Linked DNA regions of Homo sapiens. The protein of the gene in region 1 interacts with the protein of each later gene in a pairwise test. Each region holds a gene or a part of one and is shown in the gene's direction. Other genes may lie near its edges.

Region 1 (3,679 bases):
GGTACGGGAACCTGCTCACAGGAAGAGGAGAGAGCCCCAGGAAGAAGGGGGGACTGTTAGCAGCGTAGAATTGAGGAGTTGGAAGAGACCTTTAGAACAGCTGGTCATTATGCCAACTGGGTGTCCACACTAAGTTCGGCATCAATATGGTGACTTCCTGGGAGCAGGGCACTACCAGCTTACCTAAGGATGGGTGAACTGGCCCAGGTCAGAAATGAAGCAGGTCAGAACTCCCATGCTGATCGGTAGTGGGACTGCACCTGGGCAGCATAGCGAGCCCTTGGCTCTTAAAAAAGAATAAAATAAAAATAAAGAACAGATGCTTATTTCCCTCTGGGGAGGGGCTGGCCCAGGGTTACACAGTGAGGGTGGGGGCAGAGGTGGGCCCACTGTACCCTTGTTGGGTTGTCTGATGACCCCTCTGGCCACCCCCATAGGAGATGGACTGGACCGGGAGGAGGAGGAGGATGAGGAGGAGGAGGAGGAGGAGGCGGTGGCAGTACCTCAGCCCATGCCAAGCATCCCGGAGGACCTGGAGAGCCGGGAAGCCATGGTGAGGCTGACTCCCCCTCCCCAACCTTTGCTGCCTCCCTCTGTGGTCCCTCCCAGACCCCCTTCTGCTCTTGGTTTCCCGGCCTTCTGATTTCTTCGGACCCTCACCCCTTTCCTGGGAGCCAGTGGTGAGACACCATTTCACTTGGGACCAACAAGTGCACCCTCTGAGGCCCCAAGGGAAGGGCTGCTCTCTACCTCCCTGCCCTGTTCATCCTATATATCCTCCTACAAGAATGCACCCCTCTTGCCTGCAGGTGGCATTTTTCAACTCAGCTGTAGCCAGTGCCGAGGAGGAGCAGGCAAGGCTACGTGGGCAGCTGAAGGAGCAAAGGGTGCGCTGCCGGCGCCTGGCTCACCTGCTGGCCTCGGCCCAGAAGGAGCCTGAGGCAGCAGCCCCAGCCCCAGGGACCGGGGGTGATTCTGTGTGTGGGGAGACCCACCGGGCCCTGCAGGGGGCCATGGAGAAGCTGCAGGTGAATGAGTCTCTCCTGGCATGGGTCAAGAAGGGTGGGGGCGGGGCAGGTCGCTGCCGATATATGACTCCATTATTTTGGTTCCAGAGCCGCTTTATGGAGCTCATGCAGGAGAAGGCAGACCTGAAGGAGAGGGTAGAGGAACTGGAACATCGCTGCATCCAGCTTTCTGGAGAGACAGACACCATTGGTGAGTGGGAGGCCAGGGCACGGCAGGAGGAGCTGCACAGCGGTCGGAGGGAACCCAGCATCTGAGCCCTGTCCTCCCGCAGGAGAGTACATTGCACTGTACCAGAGCCAGAGGGCAGTGCTGAAGGAGCGGCACCGGGAGAAGGAGGAGTACATCAGCAGGCTGGCCCAAGACAAGGAGGAGATGAAGGTAGGGTGTGGAACATCTCTGGGGGTGGAGGTGGGCACGGGCATGGGCATGGCAGCTTAGCACCCCTCCCTCCAGGTGAAGCTGCTGGAGCTGCAGGAGCTGGTCTTACGGCTTGTGGGCGACCGCAACGAGTGGCATGGCAGATTCCTGGCAGCTGCCCAGAACCCTGCTGATGAGCCCACTTCAGGGGCCCCAGCCCCCCAGGAACTTGGGGCTGCCAACCAGCAGGGTGGTGAGTAGAGCCCTCGGGAGGGGTGGGCAGGCAGGAGTAAGGGAGGGCTCGCGTGGCACTCAGAGCCCTGCCTCTCTCTCTCCAAAGATCTTTGCGAGGTGAGCCTCGCCGGCAGTGTGGAGCCTGCCCAAGGAGAGGCCAGGGAGGGTTCTCCCCGTGACAACCCCACTGCACAGCAGATCATGCAGCTGCTTCGTGAGATGCAGAACCCCCGGGAGCGCCCAGGCTTGGGCAGCAACCCCTGCATTCCTTTTTTTTACCGGGCTGACGAGAATGATGAGGTGAAGATCACTGTCATCTAAAAGCCGGCTACTGTCAGCAAAGCCTGAAGAAGTGGGGCTGGATACCCTGCCCCCACCATATCCCTACCATCCCTTCTCAGTCAACCCTTTACCCTTACAGTAGCAAGCATAGACCCCTGTCTAACGGGGGTAGACAGGTGCAGATGAGGTGAAGATCACTGTCATCTAAAAGCTGGCCACTAAATTAAAAAAAAATTAAAAGTTATGGGATTAAAAAAAGTTATGGGATAAAAAAGGTTATGGGTAACTTATGGTATAAAAGTTATGAAAAAAGGCCAGGTGCAGTGGCTCACGCCTGTAATCCCAGCACTTTTGGGAGGCTGAGGTTGGGAGTTCAAGACCAGCCTGGTCAACATGGTGAAACTGTGTCTCTACTAAAAATACAAAAATTAGCCAGGCATGGTGGCACGTGCCTGTAATCCCAGCTACTCGGGAGGCTGAGGCAGGAGAATCGCTTGAACCTGGGAGGTGGAGGTTGCAGTGGGCTGAGATCACGCCATTGCACTCCAGCCTGGGCGACAGAGTGAGACTCTGTCTCAAAAAAAAAAAAAATTATGAAAAAAGTTATGGGATTAAAGAAAGTCAGGATAAAAATTTTAAAAAGCAGGCCACTGTCAGCAAAGCCTGGAGAAGTGGGGCCGGAGGCTCCGCCCCCATCATGTGCCTGCCACCCCTTCCCAGTCATCCCTTTACTCTTACAGTAGCAAATAAGACCCCTGTCTAATGGGGGGAGACAAATGTGTAGACCCTTAGCCACCTTGGCCAGGGCTGACTCCTTAAATTTCTGGATGATGATGATTGTTATTTAATAGCCAGAGGCTCATATAATTGGCCTCTTTGGAAGAGGCCTCATGGCCTCCTTACTCTCACCAAAGCAATTTTTCCCTCAGGGGGGCTCCCATCTTCTTACACAGAGAGGCAGCTGAGGCAGGACAGTGGGGCTAACTGTAGACCAGGCGAGGGCACGGGCTGCTGGGGTGGCCCTGCTTCCCCAGTGTACATATTGTATCTGTGTAACATTTTGTATATTCCAGGGGTAGGGCCGCCCCCTGTATCATACCTAGCAGAGGTTGGAGCTGGCACATGGGGAGGAGGTTCTAATAATTATTTGGGGCTGGGAAACTTATTTATTGATAGCATAGGACAGAGGAAGGAGGCGGGGATGGGGTCGTGGCGCCCTGGTGATGCGACTCCTGTTTATTTTGCTTTTTATTTCGGAATAAATGGATTTAGCCATACTGCTCTGCCTGATGTGTTCCTGTTTCTCTCACTGGGTCCTGGAGTTTGTGCCACTGAACAGGGAGCCCCAGAGTGTCTGAGCATGTGCAGCTGGGCTGTTGGGACCTTCCAGGCTTGTTACCTGTATGCTGCCTGGTGACATCTTGGGGATTACACGGGGACTACCATGGTACCTATGGGGACAGTTTGGCCCCGATGGCCAACAGGCTCAGAAGCCTGATCTAGCGGTGGCCAGGAAGACAGGATGCCAGCACCCAAGGGCACTGACTTCCATCCAGCCCAGGTGTCTTCCATTCTGTCCCCCTGCCTCCCTCGCCTGCCTGAGCCTGGTGGCCTGTTCTGTCTGTCCCTCCAGAATGCCAGCCGCCCTGCCGGCGCCCTCCAGGCTGAGTTAATGGCCCTGCCCCCTAGTGGCCAGAGCCCGCTTCACAGGATGAGAGCCCCCTAAGCTCCAGGGGCTTTCCAGGAAAAATGTCCCTTGGAAAAGATGTGGTCTTTT
Region 2 (3,500 bases), on another chromosome or scaffold:
AGGAAATAGAGCGGCGGCGTGGCATGATGCGTCAGCGAGCACAGGAGAGAAAAAATGAAGAGATGGAAGTCATGGAAGTGGAAGATGAGGGTCGTTCTGGAGAGGAGTCAGAATCAGAGTCTGAGTATGAAGAGTACACAGACAGTGAAGATGAGATGGAGCCTCGCCTTAAGCCAGTCTTCATTCGAAAGTAAGTATCTCACAAGCCAGATCTGAATCCACTTAATTACCACTTTCCAGGCCTGGAGACAAAAGTCTGTTTTCTGTCTTGCTATTCTGAAATCTAAACGCTGAGTGAAAGTGCTTTTGCTAGTGCTCTACCCTTGGCAGACTAGCTGCTGAGGAATATCTTGGCGTTAGCAGAGAACCTGAGTTTGTTTTCACATCTCTTTTTTCAGTAATAGAGCATATATCTGTCCAAGGCCTTTTTTTGTTTGTTTGAGACAGAGTTTCGCTCTTGTTGCCCAGGCTGGAGTGCAATGGCATGATCTCGGCTCACCACAACCTCCACCTCCTGGTTTCAAGCAGTTCTGCCTCTGTCTCCCGAGTAGCTGGGATTACAGGCATGCGCCACCACGCCTGGCTAATTTTGTATTTTTAGTAGAGAGGGGGTTTTTCCATGTTGGTCAGGCTGGTCTCGAACTCCCAACCTCAGGTGATCCGTCCTCCTCAGCCTCCCAAAGTGCTAGGATTACAGGCATGAGCCACGGCACCAAGCCAAGGCCATATATTTTTAAGCACAAAATTAAACTCAACGAGCAAATTCCTATTCCTTTCCTGATGGCTAGAAATCCTACTGCTTAGAGGCCAGCAGGTTCTTTGCTGTCTAGGCAGTTCTCAAAGATGAACATGATTTTAGTCCTCTAAAGACCTGGGATGATGGCTGGGCACGGTGGCTCACGACTGTAATCCCAGCACTTTGGGAGGCTGAGGTAGGTGGATCAGGAGGTCAGGAGTTCAAGACCAGCCTAGCCAAGATGGTGAAACCCCATCTCTACTAAAAATACAAAGAAATTAATCAGGTGTGGTGGCAGACTCTTGTAATCCCAGCTACTCAGGAGGCTGAGGCAGAGAATTGCTTGAACCCAGGAGGCGGAGGTTGCAGTGAGCCAAGATCACACCACTGCACTGCAGCCTAGGCGACAAGTGAGACTCCGTCTCAAAAAAAAAAAAAAAAAAAAAGACCTGGGATGACTCAGCGTTTTTTGCTCTTTGAAAATAATAGAGCCAAAGATTGTTTGGTTTTTGTCTGATTTGGATGGGACTAGGTCTAGGGGAACAAAGCACTCCACTCTAAGGACTTTGGGCAATTAACAGGATCTCTGTGATGCAGGAAGGACCGAGTGACAGTTCAAGAACGTGAAGCCGAAGCATTGAAACAGAAGGAGCTGGAGCAGGAAGCAAAACGCATGGCTGAGGAAAGGCGCAAGTACACACTCAAGGTACTGGGGAGTGGTTGCAAGGAATGAGTACAAGAAATAGTGTAATCAGGTTTGTCTGAGGAGAGTAAGGAAGTCCAAGCTGAATTGTTCTCCCTATCCAGATTGTCGAAGAGGAAACCAAAAAAGAGCTGGAAGAGAACAAGCGATCCCTGGCTGCATTGGATGCACTCAATACTGATGATGAAAATGATGAGGAGGAATATGAGGCATGGAAAGTTCGAGAGCTAAAAAGAATCAAGAGGGACAGAGAAGATCGAGAAGCGTGAGTAAAAAGATGAGCCTAGAGTTAATGCTGCTAATGGAACAGGTTTCTAGCAGGATAGCTCTGAGACTCATTACCTACTGTGAGTTCCATTCTAGCCACCTTCAGAGTTCTTGTTGCTTTGTGAGTTTCCTATAATTGGAATATGAGTTTCACTTGCTACAGTGAAATCAGGGAAGAGAAAAACACTTTGTCGATGTGTGTCCATAATAGAGTGCCAGCCAGTGCTCCCTTTAGTTTCCTAGTAGACACAAAAATTAGTAACTGTTAGTAGTTATCTCTTCTTGTGTACAACCCAACCCACAATTGAGTGACTTGAAACTATAATTTATTACTTTTCACAACTTTGGAGGTTGGCTGAACAGTTCCTCTACTGATTTCACCTGGGCTTACTTATGTAGTTGCATCCAGCTGGAAGGTTGACTGGGCTGGAAACTTAAAAGGGCTTCACTCACATGTTAGTAGTAGGTGGTGGCTATCAGTTAGGATACCTCACTTATCCTTCACTGGATTAGACTGGCTTCCTTACATAGCAGTCTCAGGGCACCATTCTAAGAGGGCAAGGTCTTCTGACATGTCGGTTCCAGAACTCATACATCGATCTTGCCACATACTGGTCAAAGCAAGTCACAAGGCCAACCTAGCTTTAAGCAGGTGGAGAAACAGACTCCACCTCTGCAGAGGAGGAGCAGCAAAGTCATACTTTTTGAAAAGGGGCATACATACTGTGAGGGGAAGAATTTGTGGCACTTAAATAATCTACACTGTGTTAGAGCAGAATCTTTTTTTTTTTTTTTTGACATGAAGTTTCACTTTTCACCCAGGCTGCAGTGAAGTGTCACAATCTCAGCTCACTGCAGCCTCCGCCTGCCAGGTTCAAGTGATTTTCCTGCCTCAGCCTCCCAAGTAGCTGGGATTACAGGCATGCGCCACCATGCCTGGCTAATTTTCGTATTTTTAGTACAGACAGGGTTTCACCATGTTGGTCAGGCTGGTCTCGAACTCATGATCTCAGGTTGTCCACCCAACTCGGCCTCCCAAAGTGCTGGGATTATGGCATGAGCCATCATGCCCGGCCCCAGCAGAATCATTTCTGAGCTGCATCACTCATTCCTGTAAATTACTAGGTATGAGAGGGTAATCCCAGATTACAAAGGAAACCATCAATAGATAACTCTAGGCTGGGCGTGATGGCTCACACCCATAATCCCAGCACTTTGGGTGGCTGAGGCAGGCGAATCACTTCAGGCTGAGAGTTCAAGACCAGCTTGGCCAACATGGTGAAAACCTATCTCTACTAAAATACAAAAATTAGCTGGGTGTGGTGGTGTGTGCCTGTTATTCCCAGCTACTCGGGAGGCGGAGGCAAGAGAATCGCTTGAACCCGGCAGGCAGAGGTTGCGGTGAGCTGAGATCGTGCCACTGCACTCCAGCCTAGGTGACAGAGTGAGACTCTATCTGGAAAAAAAAAAAAAAGAAAAAAAGAAAACTTGCCTGAGTATGAGCTACACACAGTAGATAACTCCATACTCAGCCTGTAATTTTTTGTTTTTGGTTTTTTTTTTTTTTTTGAGACACAGTCTCACTCTGTCGCCCAGGCTGGAGTGCAGTGGCGCAATCTTGGCTCACTACAACCTCCACCCCCTGGGAGTCAAGCGGTTCTCCTGCCTCAGCCTCCTGCGTAGCTGGGACTACAGGTATATGCCACCACGCCCAGCTAATTTTTGTATTTTTAGTAGAGGTGGGTTTTCACCATGTCGGCCAGGCTGGCCTTGAACTCCTGACTTCAGGTGATC
Region 3 (2,494 bases), on another chromosome or scaffold:
AGACAGGGTCTTGCTCTGTTGCCCAGGCTGGAGTGCAGTGGCACAATCTCAGCTCACTGTAGCCTAGACCTCCGAGGCTCAAGCGATCCTCCCACCTTGGCCTCCCAACTACCCAGGACTACAGGTGCATACCACCATGTCTGGCTAATTTTTGTAGAGACAGGATTTCACCATGTTGCCCAGTCTGGTCTCAAACTCTTGGGCTCAAGTGATCCACCCTCCTTGGCCTTCCAAAGTGCTGGGATTACAGGTGCGAGCCACCACGCCTGGCCAAATTGGGTTTTTATAAATGAAAATTGTGCTTCCCCAGTGGAACCCTGATCTCTCAGGGGTGTGTTTTTTAAATTTGAAACATATTTTTTTTTAGTTTCTCTGTCCCATTTTCCAAGCTGTCTGCTTACAAGAACCACAGAGAATGCTGGCAAGCTTGTCCGATCCCTACTATAGCACAGTGAAATAAACTGAGCCCAGAGCCAAGAGCCCAGAGAGAGGCCTCACCCAAAGTCACACAACCAACAACCACAGCTCCCCCTCAAGGGAAAGAGGATGGGGAGGGGAAGCTATGTAAGCACGTGTCTGGAAGCTCAGAAGCCAGCACTGGCCCCTTTCCCATGGGGCTGGCACAGGAGGATGGGCAAGCCCCAGCTGCACAGGGCTCGGCCCCTCACTTCCCAGCTGCACAACTTTGAACAAGTCCCTCAACCCTCCCGATCCATCCGTAAATTGGGTGAATAATTTCCACCTTGGCTGACTTCACAAGGAATCCAGGCAAGAATGGGAATGAAATAGCTTTGTAAAGGTGAGGGTGAGGACATGAATATCAAGTCCTTAGTGAAGATAAGCGGGCTCAGGAATGGAGATCAACAGTTGTGTCCATGGTTAGCTGCACAAAGGCCTGTCTCCCCTGCAGGCGCCAGGAGCGACAGCGCTTTGCTGAGTACCAGGCGGAGCTGCAAGGCATCCAGCACAGGGTGCAGGCCCGGCCCTTCCTGTTCCAGCAGGCTATGCAGGTGAGGCTGGCACCTGGGCAAGCACATAGCTGCCCCCTGTGAAGAGCTGGCTGAGTGGGTAGGGAAGCAGGATGCGAGTAGGTCCCTGCAGATAGGATCCCAGGGCTGCTGCCCTCTGGAATCCCTGGGACCCCCTCAGTAACCCGATCCCCACCTTGCCCTCGGCAGCCCTGGTGCAGAGCAGGAAGCCGTCTTCTCTCTCCTCAGGCCAATGCCCGGCTCACCGTCACTCGGCGCTTCTCCCAGGTGCTGTCAGCACTGGGGCTGGATGAGGAGCAGCTGCTGTCTGAGGCAGGAAAGGTGGACAGAGAGGGCACCCCCAGGAAACCCAGGTGAGTCTCCCCGTCAGGTCAAGAACTGACTCTGCCATGCTGCTGCGGGAAGGGGCGCCCACACCAGCACTCTGGGCTCTGGAGGGCCTCCCCCAGGACAGGCAGAGAGCCCAGAGGAAGGCAAGGCCAGGGTTGTCATTCCTACTTCTCAATGAGGAAACTAAGGACCTGAGGGGAAGGGCCTTCTTTAAGGACGCAGGAGCGAACAAGCAGCAGAACCAGTCTGGGACTCTGCAACCATCTGAGCGGCCACACACCAAGTCCCTCATTAGGGGCTGGCACCACCACGCTGGTCACCCCATGCCTTAGAATAACCTGGTACAGAGCAGCGATTATGAAGCCCACTTGACAATAAGGAAAGTGAGACTCGAGAAGAGTCACTTTGCCCAGGATCACACAGCAAGCCGGCACTGAAGCAGGGTTTGAAGCCACATTGTCAGTGGTTTCCTTGGGCATGGGGGTGGGAGCTGCAGAGTCAGGGGCCTCTATCTGTGTCTTGAAGGAGCCACAGGTCAATGGGGGTGAGAATGGAGCACTCTCCTCAGAGGCCCCCAAGGACAGAACCCACCGGCAGCCAGCCTGACAGGCACTACAACCCCAGCCTGGACCCGGAGTGCAGTCCCTGAGATAAAATTAAAGGCTTTATGGCAAACACAGTATGAGATTTCTGGTGGTGGGGGTGGTGGAAGCTACGGGTTGGAAGTTGGAGGTGGCAGGTGGGTGGGCAGCAGGCTTAGCTCTGTCCCCGCACCCCCTCCCCACCAGGAGCTTTGGCTCTTTTGGTTCCCCCCACCCAGTACACACAGCCCCTTCTCTGCTCCTGAGGAGTGGGGACATCTCAAAGAGCAAGAGCTGTGACTTCTCCACCCCATCTCCAATGTATATGTTGGGTCCTATAAATTCAAGCATGAATAAGATGAAATGACTCCTGCCTCTGAGGACGCCCAGTGAGTGGGAGAGGGGGTGGATCCTTAAAGGGGCGCATACAACATAGCCTAACACATGCTGAGTTGTGCCACACAGGGAGCCACAGACTGAGCAACCACTGGGTGAGGGGAGGGGTTTCAGGAGAGATTGGGATTGTGTGCACTGCGCTTTTTTTTTTTTTTTTTAAGACAGAGTCTCGCTCTGTCACCAGGCCGGAGTGCAATG
Region 4 (2,879 bases), on another chromosome or scaffold:
CAGAGGATTCACACTGGAGAAAGGCCGTATGAATGCAGTGAATGTGGGAAATCATTTCTTTCCAGCTCTGCGCTTCATGTTCATAAAAGAGTTCATTCTGGACAAAAGCCTTATAAGTGCAGTGAATGTGGAAAATCCTTTTCTGAATGTTCCAGTCTCATTAAACACAGGAGAATTCACACTGGAGAAAGGCCTTATGAATGCACCAAATGTGGAAAAACATTTCAGCGAAGCTCTACCCTCCTTCATCATCAGAGTTCACACAGGAGAAAGGCCTTATGAGTGCAGTGAATATGGGAAATCGTTTGCTGAAGCATCCCGTCTCGTTAAACACAGGAGAGTTCATACTGGAGAAAGGCCTTATGAGTGCTGTCAATGTGGAAAACATCAGAATGTCTGCTGTCCTCGGTCTTAAGCGACTTCGTGTTGAGATGGAGTCTTGTTCTGTCACCCAGGCTGGAGTGCAGTGGTGCAGTCTTGGCTCGCTGCAACTTGGGCCTCCTGGGTTCATGCAATCCTCCTACCTCAGCCTCCTGAGTAGCTGGGATTATGAGTACACACCACCACGCCCAGCTAATTTTTGTGTTTTTAGTGGAGATGGGGTTTTACCATGTTGGCCAGGCTGGTCTCAAACTCCTGACCTCAAGTGATCCACCCACCTTGACTCCCAAAGTGCTGAAATTACAGGCATGAGCCTCTGCACCTGGCCTTCATTCTTTTCGTATTGCTTAGAATATGACATGCTGAACCAGGCATGGTGGCTCATGCTTGTAAACCTGATGCTTTGGGAGGACAAGGTGGTTCATTGGAGGCCAGGAGTTAGAGATCAGCCTGGGCAACATAGCCAGACCTCCTCTCTACAAAAAGAAAAAAGAATGACATGCTTCTTGTTTTTGTCTGTTATAAATGAAACTGCTATATTTGAATGCAGTTGTTCATGTAGGTATGTTTCACTATGGTAATATGGTGGTGTGCAGTGCCTGAGTCACGTGATAGATTAAAGTACAACTCTTTTTTGAGACAGAGTCTCACTCTGTCACCCAGGCGGGAGTTAGGTGGCATGATTTCGGCTCACTGCAACCTCTGCCTCCCAAGTTCAACTGATTCTTCTGCCTCAGCCTCCCGAGTAGCAGGGATTACCGGTGTGCACCACCATGCCTGGATAACTTTTTTTTTTATTTCTATTAGCAATGGGGTTTCACCATGCTGGCCAGGCTTGTTATGAACTGACCTCAAGTGATCTGCCTGCCTCAGCTTCTCAGGTGTGACCTACTGTGCTTGGCCTAATGTACAACTTTTTAAGCAATGCCAAACTATGACTTAAGAATGAAATTATTGCTCATTTGTATATCTATCTACCATCAGTGTCCAAGAATTTCTGTTCTATCTTACCAAGAGGGAGTATGGTTAGTATTTGAAATTGTTTATTATTTTAATAAGTGGTTATAACTTTTGAGTCAGTGGTTTATGTTTTGCATTTTTTTTGTTTTGAGACAAAGTCTCGCTCTGTCTCCCAGGCTAGAGTACCGTGGCACAATCTCAGCTCATTGCAACCTCTGCTTCCTGGGCTCAAGCACTCTGCCCACCTCAGCCTCCAGAGTAGCTGGAAATACAGGTATGCACCACCACAACTGGATAACTTTTGTATTTTCTGTAGAGAGGGTTTTACCTTTTTGCCCAGTCTGATCGCGAACTCCTGGGCTCAGGCGATCCACTTGCCTAGGCTCCAAAAGTGCTTGGTCTACAGGGGTGAGGCACCCTGCCTGGCCTCACCTGTAGGCTTGTTTTTTAAAATGAATTTTATCTATTTCCCATTTCATTAATATATTTAAAAATAATGAAATAACAAAGACGTATGTTGGACTTCATTCATTCTTCAGTGATGTCACTTTGCTGCAAGGAATATTTGGTTTTCTTTTTTTTTTTTTTTTCCAGATGGAGTCTAGCTCTGTCTCCTAAGCTACAGTGAAGTGGCATGATCTCGGCCCACTGCAACCTCCACCTCCTGTGTTCAAGCGATTCTGCCTCAGCCTCCTGAGTAGCTGGGACTACAGGCATGTGCCATTATACCTGGCTAATTTTATTTATTTATTTTAGTAGAGATGGGGTTTCACCATGTTACCCAGGCTGCTCTCTACCTTCTGAGCTCAAGTGATCCACCTGCCTCGGCCTCCCAAAGTGCTGGGATTACAGGTGTCAGCCACTGTACCTGGCTGAATACTTGGTTTTCAGTACCACAAGAACTATGAGCTGGTTATCCACTTCATGTGGAATCATAAGCGTCCCAAAGTGACAATACATATAGATTGCCAGGCAGTGAAACAGTTAAGATGCCACCATAGCTTTCTTTTCAACATCTTTCTAAGATTACCTTACTATTTCTTTTGTTCCAAGTTTGTACTTCCTCACAGTTCTCACATATGGAAAGGATACACACTTTGTAGAAACAAGAACTTTATGTTATCCAAGTTCTAGGATAGCCATGAGCTCCAATTATCTCAGAGCTCTGAGTCCTCTACTCAATACCCATTGAGATTTATGTGTTCTGAGGCTTTTGTCTTCTAGCTACTTACTTCATTCTCCATGGGTAACGTCATTCATCCACATTAACTAATTTCCTCACTCCAAGCTCTTTTCTAGAGATAATCTCCAGTCCCTGTGCAGAAACTGTCATTGCACTTTCTGCTGAAATGGCAGTTTCTTCTCAGCAAGGTGAGATTATGGAATCCAGAATCTTTTTTCAGGGGTCACATGCCCATTTCCCCACTTGCATGAATGTCGACACTGCAGCCACAGTTTTGGCCGTAAATGTGAATTTGGCAAGTAACCACTGTTCCCAGGGAAATGTCCCAATCAGAAGAAGATTATCTGGGACACTG
Region 5 (2,302 bases), on another chromosome or scaffold:
TGCAAGTGTGAGTGTGTATATGCATGTGTGTATATGCATGCCATGTGTGTGCATGTATGTGTATATGCATATATGAGTGAGTGCACGTGACAGTCTACACGTGAGGGTGCATGTGTGTGCGCGTGTGGGTGACTGCATATGTGTGTGCATGTGTGGGTGCGGGTGCATCTGTGTGTGCATGTTTGGGTGCGGGTGCATGTGTGCGTGCACGTGTGTGTGGATGAGAGGTCGCATGTGTGTGGGTGAGGGCGTGTGTGTGTGCATGTGTGTGGGTGAGGGGGCATGTGTGTGCACGTGTGTGGGTGAGGTGTGTGTGTGCATGTGTCAGGGTGTGTGTGCGCGCATGTGTGTGGGTGAGGGCCTGTGTGTGCGTGTGTGTGGGTGAGAGATGTGTGCGCATGTGTGTAGGTAAGGGTGCTTGTGTGCGCATGTGTGTGGGTGAGGGCGTATGTGTGTGGGTGAGGGCACGTGTGCGCGCGTGTGGGTGAGATGGCGTGTGCGTATATCCATGTATGACTGCATCTGTATTTGCATGAGTTCATGTGTGAGTGCATGTTTATACGCGTGTCAGGGTCTCTGTGTATGTGTATGACGTGTGAGTACATGTGTTAATGTGTGTGTACATGTGTATATGCCTGTGTGCATGTGTGTATGCATGTGTATACATGTGTACTTGTGTATGTGTATATGTGTATGTCTGTATATGTGTGTGTATGCCTGTGTACGTATGTATATGCGTGTGTGTATGCATGTGAGTGCATGTTTATGCGTGTGTATGTGTACTTGTGTGTGCCTGTGTGAGTGCATGTGTGTGTACATGTGTATATGCGCGTGTGCGTATGCGTGTATGTGTACGTGTGTATATGCATGTGTGTGTATATGCCTGCATGTATATGCACAAGTGTGTATATATGTGTATGTGTGAGTGTATGTGTGCATGTGTATCTGTATGTGCGTGTGTATATGTGCATGTGTGTATGTGTGCGTGAGTGTGTGCATGTGTGTGTGTATGTGTGCGTGTGTATGTGTGTGCGTGAGTGTGTGAGAGTGTGTATGTATACGCACGCGTGTGTGTCTGTCTCCCTCAGGACAGTGCCCAGGCGGATGGGTCAGTGCTCCTGGGTTGGTTTGCCCCTGGTGGCCCATGTCTGAGCCCTGCCCCTTACGGCTCTGTCTGCAGGTTCTCCCATGGGCAGGTGGTCTCTCTGGATGAGCTGCGCCCCTTCCAGGACCCAGACCTGAGCTCCCTGCAGGCCGGCTCTGCGTGTCTGGCCAAGCACCAGGATGGCCTCTGGCACGCAGCACGCATCACCGGTGAGGCTGGCCGTGGGGGCCTCCCGGGAACACCCTCCCAGGCCCCACGTGTGTTGTCACTGTGTGGCTGCTCCCTGCTTCCTTTGGGTTGAGTGTCGGGACTCTGGCTCTGGGCCCGAAATGAGCACACCTACCCTCAGCCTCTGCCCTGCCTTGCTCCTCATGTCCAGGGTGGTTCCCTTCAGTGGCACCTGCTGTCAAGGATTCTGACCTGCAGCTTGTCTCTGCCCCCAGATGTGGACAACGGCTACTACACAGTCAAGTTTGACTCGCTGCTGCTGAGGGAGGCCGTGGTGGAGGGGGACGGCATCCTGCCCCCACTGCGCACAGAGGCCACAGAGTCCGACTCAGACAGCGACGGTACGGGTGACTCCAGCTATGCCAGAGGTATGGCAGCAGCTGCGGAGCCCAGGAGCCAGGAAGGTGGGGTCACCCTGAGAGGCTCCTGGCCGGTGAGGGCACCAACCATCTAACCAAACTATTGGAGAGTGTGTGACTGCGGCGAGGGTGCCACCTGTGCCTGAGGAGGCCGTGTGGGTAGGGGTAGATCCGTGGCGGCCTTTATCTTCAAGGAGTGTGGGTGCAACAGCTACAGTCTCATTGATGGGAGGCCATGGTCGTGGCTGTGGCCATGGGAGAGGAGGGGCCTGGAGTTGCCGAGGAAGTCACAGAAAATGACCAACTGATGGGGCCTGGAGTGCAGGAGGGGCAGCTCCTCTGCATGGCTTCTCAGACTTGGGACCTGGGTGCCTGGGATCCTGGCAGACAGAGGTTGTGTCCAGACAGCCAGCATGGAAGTTTCGGGAATGGGAACTGGTGGGCAGTGTCCAGCTCTCCAGAGGGGTGTGTGTATGCGTGTGCGTGTGTGTGTATATATGTGGGAGGTCACCTGACCCAAGCATGGCGGGCTGAGTCCAGGAGGGGTCTGCATGTTGGAGGTGTACCCAGGGATCAGTGATGGTGGTTTCTGAAGCCCCATGTCCCTGGT
Region 6 (2,975 bases), on another chromosome or scaffold:
AAAAGTAACTTGAAAGAAGTGGAGATAAATTTTTTTTTTTTTTTTGAGACGGAGTGTCGCTCTGTTGCTGAGGCTGGAGTGCAGTGGCACTACCTCGGCTCACTGCAACCTCCGCCTCCCAGGTTCAAGTGATTCTCCTGCCTCAGCCTCCCAAGTAGCTGGGACTACAGGCGCATGTCACCACGCCCAGCTAATTTTTTGTATTTTTAGTAGAGACGGGGTTTCACCATGTTAGCCAGGATGGTCTCAATCTCCTGACCTCGTGATCCACCCGCCGCTGCCTCCCAAGTGCTGGGATTACAGGCGTGAGCCAAGGCGCCTGGCCAAAACAGATATTTCTAATAAGATACAAGCTAGTAACTTCAGGATTAGAATACCTTGTATTCTAACTCAATTATTGTCTAGCTGGAGTTAGCTACATTTACTTGTTAACAAGCAGCAGACTTAAGAACATTGTAACTCCTGTTCCGCTTTTTGAACTTTCGGATAAAATTATAGAAATAGTATGATTGAAGTCAAGTTTCTTAGCAGGTACCTGGATTAACAAGTAACGAGTAAATGTAGCTAACTCCAGCTAGACAATAATTGAATTGTTGCTTCTGTCTCCAGAAGTCACCTTCTTTTTGACTTTTCTTTAATATATAGCTCTGGATTTGGCTGAGATTCAGAGTATTGCTGGTAGAGCCACCTGACCCTGACTGACCACCATGGTAACAGACTTGTGAGCTTTCTGGGGAAGAATGCATTTAGTTTGTAAGGCCATCCTGCAGTAGCTATAGTCCAAAACTAATCTATCTGGATCACGCCTGATCTTGCACCAGGCTCCATGTTTGATCCATTCCCTAAACTAATTGCCATCATTAAAGGAAAGACTCAAAATACAAGTGAAACAATAACAATATGTTTATGAGTGTAATGCTGCTTTTTTTCTTCTTTAGGAGCAGCATAGAAGATGCTCAGTGTCCTGGATTACCAGATTTAATTGAAGAAAATCATGTAAGTACAATTCCAGTGTGGTTAGATAGCCCAGTATGTCATATGTTTATATCATTATAGAAAGTAACTTTGTAAAGCATCCCCAGAATTTCCGTTGGAAATCTAAATCAGTCATGTAGAATTGTAGTTCTTGTTTCAATGACATTTGGGTTGTTTAAAACCATAGTGTCATTTTGTATTCTTCAACTCATATCAGAATGAATATGGAACCAGTGAACTAGAGCAGAAATCAGCAAACTTTGGCCCCTATTTTTACAAATCATATTTTATTGTAATAGCCACACATTTGTTTATGTATTCTATCTGGCTGCTTTTGCAATACAGTGGTAGAGTTGAGTACTTATGACAGAGACCCTGTGACTCACAAACCTAAAATATTTACTATTTGATCTTTTACAGAAAATGTTTGCCAGTCCCTGAGCTAGAGTATAGGTACTTGCTGAGAAACTTGCCTTCAATCATACTATTTCTATAATATTATCTGAACTAATTGTTGAAGAAGCAGGATAGTAGGATTTATAATGTTCTTAAGACTGTGTCCGGGATGTCATCCTTCTGTTTTTCTTGTATTTAATAGCAACAAGACTTTTAAAATTTGTTCCAAGTAATTAAATTGATAATTAAATATAATGCCATTTTTACTTCCAGGTTGTAAATAAGACAGACTTGAAGGTGGATTGTTTATCCAGTGAGAGAATGAGTTTGCCTCTTCTTGCTGGTGGAGTAGCAGATGATATTAATACTAACAAAAAAGAAGGAATTTCAGATGTTGTGGAAGGAATGGAACTGAATTCTTCAATTACATCACAGGATGTTTTGATGAGTAGCCCTGAAAAAAATACAGCTTCACAAAATAGCATCTTAGAAGAAGGGGAAACTAAAATTTCTCAGTCAGGTGAGATATTTAAAATATATTTAAACGAGCCTTTATTAAAGAAATGAACTTGGATTAAGGTATAAATTATCCTATAAGGTCCATTTTACATTAGATCTAACTATTGAGGATCCTTCATTGTTAGTGAAGACCCTGAATTAGAACAATTCCCTCAAGATTTTTTTTTTTTTTGAGATGGAGTCTCACTCTGTTGCCCAGGCTGGAGTGTAGTCGTGTGATCTCAGCTCACTGCAACCTCCACCTCCCAGGTTGAGGCGATTCTCCTACACATGTACCACCGCGCCTAGCTAATTTTTTTATTTTTAGTAGAGACAGAGTTTCACCACATTGGCCAGCCTGGGCTTTTTTTTTAGTTGTCCTTTTCAACACATATCCCCAAGTCTTTCTTCAAAATATCCTATTTTTCTTCCCTACTGCCTAGTTCTACCTATATTGTTGTGATGGTTCTGCAATAGGAAATGGCTCCTATATTTTTGTTATAATGTGTGCCAGTTTTACCTGCCATTTTCATCAGTTAGTCTGTAGCTGGTCTAACTGGGGCCTATGGTAAAACAAAAGGTTTTAACCTCGGCCAGACATTTAATGTCCTCCAGCTGTTCTTCATCAGCATTTTCTGGGTACCTTTAATGTTACAAGCATGAGATTTGTTTACAGAAGTCTGCTTTTATACCAAAGTTAAGGATAAGAATTTAACTACTTTCAAAAAACATTATAGCATAGGGGTCTATATTTTTGTCTTAGCATTTGATATGTGGAACTTTTCATATTTTTCATGGCTTTGTCCATTTCTAACAGCCCTCGAATGTGAGAATATTCTTTAAAAAGTTTTTTTTTGTTGTTTTTCAGAACTATTTGATAATAAAAGTCTCACTACTGAATGCCACCTTCTTGATTCAGTAAGTTTTCCAACTTGACAAGTCCCTTTATATTCTAGATTTGTTTTATAAAATGAATATTGCTTTTCTATTTGTGTACAAGGCTTAAAATGTATATCTTGTCATTGTTTTGCTTACTCACTCTTCATTTTTCACAGAATGAAGAAAAATTTGGTGTTTATATACTTTAAAATATAGTATGTTTTAAT
Region 7 (2,207 bases), on another chromosome or scaffold:
GTTCAAGCGATTATCCTGCCTCAGCCTCCCAAGTAGCTGGGATTACAGGCACCTGCCACCAAGGCTAATTTTTTGTATTTTTAGTAGAGACAGGGTTTCACCATGTTGGCCAGGACGGTCTCGATCTCCTGACCTCGTGATCTGCCCGCCTTGGACTCCCAAAGTGCTGGGATTACAGGTGTGAGCCACTGCTCCCAGCCAAGATCAGATGTTCTTGCATAATGGGCAGGTGAGCTCTGGAGTCACAGTGCCTGGGCGTGAATCTCGGAGCTGTGTGTTCTCAGGAATGTCACCCAAACTCTGTTCTGTTGGTCTCCTCACTTGCAATATGGGGCATTAACAGTACTTACCACCTGGGGTTACTGTGGTTAGTTACTGTGAGGATGAGATAAGGCGGTGGTTTTAAACTGTGGGTAGGATTTTGTCCTCCCTCAGCCCCACTCTTTCTTGGGGACATTTGGCAATGTATGACATTTTTGATGTCACAACAGGCAGGAAGAAGGCTACTGGCATTGAGTGAGTAGAGACCAGGGATGCGGTTAAGCATAGTGCAATATCACCATGCTACAAAAAAAAAAAAAAAAAAGAATTCAGCACCTGTAATCCCAACTACTTGGGAGGCTGAGGCAGGAGAATTGCTTGAACCTGGGTGGCAGAGGTTGCAGTGAGCCGAGATTGCGCCATTGCACTCCAGCCTGGGCGACAGAGCGAGACACCATCTCCAAAAAAAAAAAAAAAAAAAATGTTGAGAAACCCTGAAATACCACGATTCTAGCTAAGACCTCAGCAAGAGGCACATAGCACATAGTAAAGCCTCAATAAACACCACTGACCTTACTGAGGTTCTCTCTGCCCCCTAAGTCATAAGTAGGGTGGCCTCACCAAGGGTGTGGTTCTCAGTCTGTACCTCTGGCACTGGGAAGCCCCGCCTGGCCACCCTAGGATGCAGAATTAATCATAACTTCCAGATATGGAGCACTCACTCTATTCCAGGCCGTGTGCTGACAGCTTCGCAGCAAGCATTCTCTCCTGGCACTCCCCGACAACAGTGAGGTGTCTTGCTATTACTGCCATTTTAGAGGAGGAAACAGGTTCAGGGAGGATCACAAGTCATCAAGCTAGTACTGTGCTTAAACTTAGGTCTAGCTGTTCTTAATGTGCAGAAGAGTGTAAAGGGTTACCATTTTTAAAGAAAAAGTGGGGGCAGGGCATGGTGGCTCATGCCTGTAATCCTAGCACTTTGAGAGGCCGAGGCAGGCGGATCAAGAGGTCAGGAGTTCGAGACCAGCCTGACCAACATGGTGAAACCCTGTCTCTACTAAAAATACAAAAATTAGCTGGGTGTGGTGGAGTGCATCTATAATCCCAGCTACTCAGGAGGCTGAGGCAGGAGAATCACTTGAACCCAGGAGGCGGAGGTAGTGGTGAGCCAAGATCACGCCGAGCCGAGATCGTGCCGCTGCTCTCCAGCCTGGGCAACAGAGCGAGACTCCATCTCAAAAAAAAAAAAAATGTTGGAAGAGGGTGTGCTTGTTTATGTACAAAATGTCGCTAGATTTAAACACAATAAACTGGCAAAGATGGTTGTCTCTGGGGAGAATTGGGGACTTGGGAACAGGAGCTGAAGAACAACTTTTCAGTGTTGTGTTTGGAACCATGTGAATGTATTATGTATTCAAAATGTAAATAAAAATGAAGTTAAAGAGACTGTGCTCCTAACTAGGAGTGTTTGTCTAAGTTGCCTGGGTGTGAGAGCACCTGGGGTGCTTGTTAGAAATAGATTCCAAAGACACACCCAGACCTACTTAAATCAGAATCCTCCAAGGGCTTCGAAACCTGCATTTGACAAGCCTGGCTGATGAGTCGAGTCCCGGCCAGTTTAGGAACAAGAACCCAAGACAACAGGATCCTAGCCCAGAAATAATTCCAGCTGGATCTTGCATCCCTACAGAAGTAGGGAGGTGGCTGTCCTAGGGGAATACGTAAAAGATGTCCAGGACGGCCGGGTGCGGTAGCTCACGCCTGTAATCCCAGCACTTTGGGAGGCTGAGGCAGGTGGATCACCTGAGGTCAGGAGTTGGAAACCAGCCTGGCCAGTGTGGTGAAAGCCCATCTCTGCTAAAAATACAAAAATTAGCCGGGCGTGGTGGCTCATGCCTGTAGTCCCAGCTACTCGGGAGGCCGAGGCAGGAGAATCCCTTGAACCC

What was found.
Region 2: the proteins of GOLGA2 (region 1) and MFAP1 interact in binary tests that used the Homo sapiens proteins (3 or more experiments, as listed by UniProt).
Region 3: the proteins of GOLGA2 (region 1) and TSGA10IP interact in binary tests that used the Homo sapiens proteins (3 or more experiments, as listed by UniProt).
Region 4: the proteins of GOLGA2 (region 1) and ZNF587 interact in binary tests that used the Homo sapiens proteins (3 or more experiments, as listed by UniProt).
Region 5: the proteins of GOLGA2 (region 1) and ZGPAT interact in binary tests that used the Homo sapiens proteins (3 or more experiments, as listed by UniProt).
Region 6: the proteins of GOLGA2 (region 1) and DLGAP5 interact in binary tests that used the Homo sapiens proteins (3 or more experiments, as listed by UniProt).
Region 7: the proteins of GOLGA2 (region 1) and MORN3 interact in binary tests that used the Homo sapiens proteins (3 or more experiments, as listed by UniProt).

Annotation. Positions count from the first base shown.
Region 1 is NC_000009.12:128,255,329-128,259,007, reverse strand, and holds the end of GOLGA2 (golgin subfamily A member 2), read left to right. Parts: coding exon 1-1; intron 2-437; coding exon 438-553; intron 554-809; coding exon 810-1,028; intron 1,029-1,115; coding exon 1,116-1,218; intron 1,219-1,300; coding exon 1,301-1,407; intron 1,408-1,482; coding exon 1,483-1,639; intron 1,640-1,726; coding exon 1,727-1,941; 3' UTR 1,942-3,179; downstream 3,180-3,679. UniProt on the Homo sapiens protein: Peripheral membrane component of the cis-Golgi stack that acts as a membrane skeleton that maintains the structure of the Golgi apparatus, and as a vesicle thether that facilitates vesicle fusion to the Golgi membrane.
Region 2 is NC_000015.10:43,811,191-43,814,690, reverse strand, and holds part of MFAP1 (microfibrillar-associated protein 1), read left to right. Parts: intron 1-2; coding exon 3-190; intron 191-1,333; coding exon 1,334-1,442; intron 1,443-1,543; coding exon 1,544-1,704; intron 1,705-3,500. UniProt on the Homo sapiens protein: Involved in pre-mRNA splicing as a component of the spliceosome.
Region 3 is NC_000011.10:65,957,973-65,960,466, forward strand, and holds the end of TSGA10IP (testis-specific protein 10-interacting protein), read left to right. Parts: intron 1-910; coding exon 911-1,010; intron 1,011-1,178; coding exon of another isoform or gene 1,179-1,217; coding exon 1,218-1,342; intron 1,343-1,844; coding exon 1,845-1,968; 3' UTR 1,969-1,994; downstream 1,995-2,494.
Region 4 is NC_000019.10:57,859,859-57,862,737, forward strand, and holds part of ZNF587 (zinc finger protein 587), read left to right. Parts: coding exon 1-282; 3' UTR 283-2,879. UniProt on the Homo sapiens protein: May be involved in transcriptional regulation.
Region 5 is NC_000020.11:63,732,039-63,734,340, forward strand, and holds part of ZGPAT (zinc finger CCCH-type with G patch domain-containing protein), read left to right. Parts: intron 1-1,180; coding exon 1,181-1,314; intron 1,315-1,548; coding exon 1,549-1,701; intron 1,702-2,302. UniProt on the Homo sapiens protein: Transcription repressor that specifically binds the 5'-GGAG[GA]A[GA]A-3' consensus sequence. Represses transcription by recruiting the chromatin multiprotein complex NuRD to target promoters.
Region 6 is NC_000014.9:55,150,611-55,153,585, reverse strand, and holds part of DLGAP5 (disks large-associated protein 5), read left to right. Parts: intron 1-938; coding exon 939-996; intron 997-1,644; coding exon 1,645-1,891; intron 1,892-2,737; coding exon 2,738-2,787; intron 2,788-2,975. UniProt on the Homo sapiens protein: Potential cell cycle regulator that may play a role in carcinogenesis of cancer cells. Mitotic phosphoprotein regulated by the ubiquitin-proteasome pathway.
Region 7 is NC_000012.12:121,648,242-121,650,448, reverse strand, and holds the end of MORN3 (MORN repeat-containing protein 3), read left to right. Parts: 3' UTR 1-1,707; downstream 1,708-2,207. UniProt on the Homo sapiens protein: Assembles a suppression complex (suppresome) by tethering SIRT1 and MDM2 to regulate composite modifications of p53/TP53.